2 linked regions of the Homo sapiens genome follow. The gene in region 1 interacts genetically with each later gene. Each region holds a gene or a part of one and is shown in the gene's direction. Other genes may lie near its edges.

Evidence for each region. A genetic interaction does not mean that the proteins touch.
Region 2: changes in LIG1 (region 1) and CRYBB1 together harm fitness more than expected from each alone (negative genetic interaction), as found in Homo sapiens cells (one large-scale study listed by BioGRID).

The regions. Positions count from the first base shown.
Region 1 is NC_000019.10:48,135,845-48,139,344, reverse strand, and holds part of LIG1 (DNA ligase 1), read left to right. Parts: intron 1-1,656; coding exon 1,657-1,823; intron 1,824-2,260; coding exon 2,261-2,337; intron 2,338-3,219; coding exon 3,220-3,311; intron 3,312-3,500.
Region 2 is NC_000022.11:26,611,528-26,615,027, reverse strand, and holds part of CRYBB1 (beta-crystallin B1), read left to right. Parts: intron 1-2,837; coding exon 2,838-2,956; intron 2,957-3,500. UniProt on the Homo sapiens protein: Crystallins are the dominant structural components of the vertebrate eye lens.

The DNA.
Region 1 (3,500 bases):
GGAGGAATGCCTCCAGGATCTCCCTGGGTGACTGGATGGATGACAAAGCCGTCGGCAGCTTGGGACCCTGGTGAGGGGCAGGCACCTGCAGGGGGCATTAATCACCCCAGCGTGGGGCAGGCATGAGCAACCTCTATCTGTGGGCCCCCAGGGCCATCCAGGAAGTTTGGAAACGGGTCTGAGGCTCACCAGGTCTGGCTCAGAGCCCAGGGTTCGGGCTGGTCAGTGTAGGAGGGATGACCACCCACTGGTGGGTTCTCATCCGCCTGGGGAGAGGATGTGCTGGGAGCACTGGAGCTGGCTTAGGGCCATGGGCACCAACATTTAGGGAAGGCAGGGGTTTCAGGCTTTCATGAGAGGACAGAGGGACTGAGAAAGGTTGACTTGGATCAGGAAAGAGTTACGGGCTTATGGGAGCCAGAGGAGATGAGACTCAAGATTTTCTCACTCATTCACTCAAGATGTGTTTCGGGAGCACTGACGTCATACCAGACCCAGCACACACGGGGTCGGTTAAGAATACTCTGAGCTGCAGGTAACAGAAAACCCAACTACATTGGCTTGGACAAAGAAGGATCTGTTTTTCTCACAAAAGAAGTTGCAGATGCTGGCTTTCCTGCCCAACAATCCATGGCAGCTGGGGCCTCTTCCACTGTCTCATGCCTCCACCCTTGATGGGTCGTGTTCACACTCACACTGCTCTCCGTGCCGCCTTGTGGCCCCCGTGGCTGTCCAAGTCCCGGGTTTGTTGTGAGTTGTTGGCCACTTTGGAGAATCCCGTCCCCTTTGATGTGTGATTCGATAACATCCCATTGGTGAGGCTCACACTGTCGGCTCTCCCATTTGTGGCAGTTTCGCTTCAGGCGCGAGGCCCACCTTCATGTGCTCTGTGCCGCGGCTGAGCATCTGTGGACTGAAACGCGCACTTGTTCGTTCATTACGGATTGCTTTCCCTTTCATTCTTTTCTGTGTTAGGGTTAGGGCGTTATCTCGATAGGTGTAGGCAGGTTATGTTATCTCCACATTTTATTTCAGACCAGAAAAGAGGTGACACACAGTATCTGGTGACAAGGGTGTGTTGGTTCTGATAGGTTGAGAGCTGCTTGTCACAGCTGTCACCGTGACTTGAGGCTCCATCTCCCCAGCTCTTACACCCAGGCGCCCATGGGACCCAGCTCTGGACAGTAAGTGGGGCCAGAGCACATCCCACGTGTGTAAGCTGGTGGCTCCAAAACAAGCCGAAGGGTCTTTGGTCACTGCCAGAGATGTTCATGACCCGCCAGAGGAAAGGGTCCCTTGGCCTTCTCTGCTCTGTCCACACTCACTTCCCTAGTGACCTTGTCCCGCCTGTGGCTTTAAATCCCATCCGCGCCCTGATGACACCGGCCCAGATGTCTCCCCTGAGTGTGGTCATGCTCGTTCATCCACCGCTTTCCTGGCTCCACGTGCATGTTTGCTGACTTCCTACAGCCAGCGTGGCTGGGGGCACGTTCCCCAAGCCATTTCTACCAAGTGGGTGAGCGTTAGACACAGGGAGGTGCAGGGACTCGCCACAAGCACACACAGCTGGAGAAAATTCATCCAGGCCGCGAGAGAAGGGAGACACGCAGCCACAACTGTCACCCTCGACACCCCCACCCGCGCTCTCCCCTGAAGGTCGGCAGCTGGAGTCCGTCCGGGCTGAGGCAGCCGAGAAAGGCGACGTGGGGCTGGTGGCCGAGAACAGCCGCAGCACCCAGAGGCTCATGCTGCCACCACCTCCGCTCACTGCCTCCGGGGTCTTCAGCAAGTTCCGCGACATCGCCAGGCTCACTGGCAGTGCTGTGAGTGGGGCGGGCCGCTCATCCCGGACCCCAGACATCTTGGGGACCTGAGGCCACGCGTGTGTCAGGAAGGCTTCTGGGTAGACCATCAGCTGGGTCGCATCAGTCCTTCTCATGGGGTGCACAGCTTCCTCTCCTCCTTCCTGCACCCAATCCTAGGGGAGTCTCCTCTTCAGAGTCTAGCAGACCTAATGCCATGGCTGCCACATGACAGGACTCAGTAAATACTTCCTGGATAAAGGGAGAGGGAGGCAAGGAGGAGAGCTAGCTCGTTCTTACTGCCCTAAGAGTGGGCGGCCATGGGAGCTGGGACATGGGGATGGGGTGAGGGAAGGAGGGCAGGTATTCCAAAATGCAGGGCAGCAGCACGGCTGGTGGGGTGGAGGTGTGGTCCCTGCCTTCACCAGGCACTGACGGCTCTTCCCCTGACTCTCCAGTCCACAGCCAAGAAGATAGACATCATCAAAGGCCTCTTTGTGGCCTGCCGCCACTCAGAAGCCCGGTTCATCGCTAGGTAAGCGTGTGGGCCTGTGAGGCTACAGAGGGGGACTGCAGGCTCGGAGGTGAAAGGAGGGAGGGACTGGCAGCTGGAATCATCACAAATGCCCTGACCATCCTTGGATGAGAAAAGCATGAGCAGGAGGCCCAGCCCCTAAAGAGTGGGAAGGGACACCATTTCCTTTCACAGGCCAGCTTCTGTCCCTTGGTAGTGCTGTCTAGAGAAGGCCCCTGGGCCCCTGTGGGTGAAGCATGCTGTGATTGATTGGTGAGGTCTGCCTCGGCTTGGGCGCGGGCCCTGCAGCAGGAAGCCAGGGTTTGTTTGCCATGACAGTGAGAGCAAATCCATTGAGGGCTCACATCATGGAGCATTTCTTGGGAGCCCTGCCCTGTGCCCCGTGCCTTACCTCATCAGTTCCTACCAGCAACTCTGTGAGACTGGTCTTGTTACCCTCACCTCCAGTTTATAGAAGGGGAAATGGAGACATGGGGAGGCAAACTAAGCCACTTGTCTCCTGCCACTGGCTCAAAGCAAGGACCATGCTGGGGTCCTGACCATTACAGTCACCAGGGCGGGCGCCAGGCTCAGTTCTCTCCCTGACTCATCCTCCTCAAGCCTCGCCAACCCCTCAGGGCAGCTGAGATGGGAGGTGCTGGTGCACCTACTTGTGCCCCTCCCCAGTCTATGCTAGTGGGCAGGATCATTACTGCCTGGCTCAGTTTCCTCATCTGTCACATGGGGCTGTGTGATATCTGGGGTCCCTTCCAGGCTCTGAAGATTCTTCTGGTTTTTGAGGAGAGGGTCTACATACATCAAGGTCGAGGAGATCAGAGAAGGGAGGAGGCAAGATTGGGGAGGTGCAGACAAGCCCCCTTCCCTGGCCTGCTCTCTCCCCAGGTCCCTGAGCGGACGGCTGCGCCTTGGGCTGGCAGAGCAGTCGGTGCTGGCTGCCCTCTCCCAGGCAGTGAGCCTCACGCCCCCGGGCCAAGGTGAGCTCCTGTGGCCCGTCTCTGCATCCCTCGCTGGAGTTACCTCAGGCTTCCCCCCTCCTCTTCAGAGGCCCATGCCCGCCCCTTCCCCAGCGGGCCCCTGCCATACCAGGCTCCTCTCTCCTGGGTGGGGGGGAGGGGGCGTCTTGGGCCGCGGCATCTGCATTCCTTGCCATACAGCAAACCACC
Region 2 (3,500 bases), on another chromosome or scaffold:
GGTTAAAAACTTTCTACCTAACTCTAAGGTGTCTCCCTTGAGTCCATCATTTTCCTCCCCAACTCCAGGAAATACTGTCCTATCCTCAACCTGTGTCTGTAATCTGCTTGCTTGCTTTTGTATACAATTTTATGCATTATTCCTTTAAAAATGTATACACACATACACATGTATATTTATTTACTTGTTTTATTTATTCATTTATTTTGAGACCGAATTATGAGACGGGTTTTGCCATATTATCCAGGCTGGTCTCGAACTCCTAGCCTCCGCCTCCCCAAGTGCTGGAATTATAGGTGTGAGCCACCGCAACTGGCCGATTTACTTGTTTTTAATTTATTGAAATATGCAATGTGATTATTCTGGGCTTTTCTTTGTACTTTTCACTTACTATGAGATCCCTAATATCCATCCATATTGTTGCGCATGACTGCCGGCCATTCATTCTGGCTGCTGCCTGATATTTCAGAGCGTGACCATCTCTTTCCTGCTAAGCACGATTTCAGTGGTTGCTAGCTTTGCTCTCGTGAACAGCATGGCTTGGACGTTCTTATCCCTGTCTCCTGGTATCGGGGAACCTGCCCCGATATTCACATAGATTCTTTTCTATTTTTCCTAAGCGTCGGCCAGCTTGAGAAATAAAGGGACAGAGTACAAAAGAGAAAAATTGTAAAGCTGGGCGTCCGGGGGAGACATCACATGTCAGTAGGTTCCGTGATGCCCCACAAGCTGCAAAAACCAGCAAGTTTTTATTAGGGAGTTTCAAAAGGGGAGGGAGTGTGAGAATAGGTGTGGGTCACAGACATCAAGTACTTTACAAGGTAATAGAATATCACAGGGCAAGTGGAGGCAGGGAGAGATCACAGGATCACAGGACCGGGGCAAAATTAAAATTGCTAATGAAGTTTTGGGCACCATTGTCATTGATAACATCTTATCAGGAGACAGGGTTTTGAGATCAACCGGTCTGGCCAAAATTTATTAGGCAGGAATTTCCTCTTCCTAATAAGCCTGGGAGAGCTATGGGAGACTGGAGTCTATCTCATCTCTGCAGCGTCGACCATAAGAGACGACCACGCCCAGGGGGGCCAGTTTAGAGACCTAACCCCAGGTGCGCATTCTCTTTCTCAGGGATGTTCCATGCTGAGAAAAAGAATTCAGCGATATTTCTCCCATTTGCTTTTGAAAGAAGAGAAATATGGCTCTGTTCTGCCCGGCTCACTGGCGGTCAGAGTTTAAGGTTATCTCTCTTATTCCCTGAACAATTGCTGTTATCCTGTTCTTTTTTAAGGTGCCCACATTTCATATTGCTCAAACACACATGCTGTACAATTTGTGCAGTTAATGCAATTATCACACGGTCCTGAGGCGACATACATCCTCCTCAGCTGACAGGATTAAGAGATTAAAGTAAAGACAGGCATAGGAAAGCACAAGGGTATTGATTGGGGAAGTGATAAGTGTCCATGAAATCTTTACAATTTATGTTTACAGATTGCAGTAAAGACAGGCATAAGAAATTACAAAAGTATTAATTTGGGGAACTAATAAATGTCCATGAAATCTTCACAATCCACGTTCTTCTGCCATGGCTTCAGCCAGTTCCTCCGTTTGGGGTCCCTGACTTCCCGCAACATCCCGGGGCACACATACAGGAGTTTCTCTTGGGCAACCAAAGGTAGAAGTGGAAGTGCTGGGTCATGGTTATATGAACCTCCCCTCCTCTTACAGCTGGGGAAACTGAGGCTCAAAGAAGGCAGAAAATTGTGCCTTGGTCCATGTGAATGGCAACGTTGTCCCAACTTGGAACAGCAAGTGGACAAGGAACCAAACATGAGGCTTAGTGAGGAGAGAAGATTAGCTCAAGTTTTCCCCTATGTTGTGGAGGGTTGGATTTGCAAGTGTCTCCTGAGCATCAGCTCTGTGGCAGGTACTGGGGCTGGGGCTGGAGATACAGAAATTGATCAACCTCAGGCCCTGCCCTGGAGGAGTCCTTGGTCTTTGGAGGGGCTGGGTAATGGGAGAGAGGGAGTGCAGAGAGAGAGGGAGACCCCAAAGCAAAACAGCAGTGACTGTGTGGTGGGTTAGTTGTGCTGCTAATGGGGAGAGGACAGTGGGGGATGCTCAACCAAGGCCGATGGAGGAAGGGGCAATCAGAGAAGGCTTCCTGGAGAAGGTGGCACCTGAGCCTAAAACAGAATAACGAGCTGGAATGCGTATTAGGGAACTTCAGTTAGGCAGTGGGAGCTCCAAGCTGGATATGTGTGGTGGAGAAGGCATTCCAGGCAGGAGGAATAGCACAAAGAAAGGCCTGAAAGGGAGGTTCATAAGTTCCTAATGATGGCGCAGATCTTAGCTTCAGAATTAGGGCATGAGGCCAGGTGCAATGGCTCATGCCTGTAATCCCAACACTTTGGGAAGCCAAGGCAGGCCAATCATTTGAGCTCAGGAATTCGAGACCAGCCTGAGCAACATGGCAAAATCCTGTCTCTACAAAAAATAGCCAGGCATGGTGGTGGGTGCCTGTAATCTCAACTACTCGGAGGCTGAGGTGGGAGGATCGCTTGAGCCTGGGAGGCGGAGGTTGCAGTGAGCCATGATTGCGCCACTGAACTTCAGCTGGGGCGACAGAGTGAGACTCAGAAAAACAAACAAACAAACAAAAAACAAAAATCAGTAAAGAATTGGGGGATGGGAGGACAGGATCATTTCACAAACTGTGGCTCATCACACTTTTATGTGACTCCTGCACTGCTGGCTTTTATTTATGTAGATACTTAATGAATTTTTGACTCCCCCCTCACTCTGCCCTTGGCATGGGGGCTTCTCTCCTGCAGCTGGTGGTCTTCGAACTGGAAAACTTCCAGGGCCGTCGAGCAGAATTCTCGGGGGAGTGCTCAAATCTGGCAGACCGTGGCTTCGACCGTGTGCGCAGCATCATTGTCTCCGCGGGACCGTGAGTACTGGGCGGCGGAGGGGCACACTCTCTGCCACAGTAAAATGACCACACAACAGTAGCTGCCATTTCTCCAGCATCTGCTCTGTGCCTGCGGCCGTTCGTACTCCTGGCACATACATTATGTCCAATCCTCATATCAAACTGAAGAGGGAGGAATTGTTCTCAATCTCATTTTACGGATGAGGAAACTGAGGCTCGGAGAGGTGATCCAATTAGCATAAGATCACACTGGCAGTAAGCCATGGTTCTGGGCTCTGGAGAAATGCTGCTTCTACTATAGCAAAAACTCTAGCCCGGCCGGGCGCGGTGGCTCACGCCTGTAATCCCAGCACTTTGGGAGGCCGAGGCGGGTGGATCACGAGGTCAGGAGATCGAGACCATCCTGGCTAACAAGGTGAAACCCCGTCTCTACTAAAAATACAAAAAATTAGCCGGGCGTGGTGGCGGGCGCCTGTAGTCCCAGCTACTCGGGAGGCTGAGGCAGGAGAATGGCGTGAACCCGGGAAGCGGAGCTTGCAGTGAGCCGAGATTGCGCCACTGC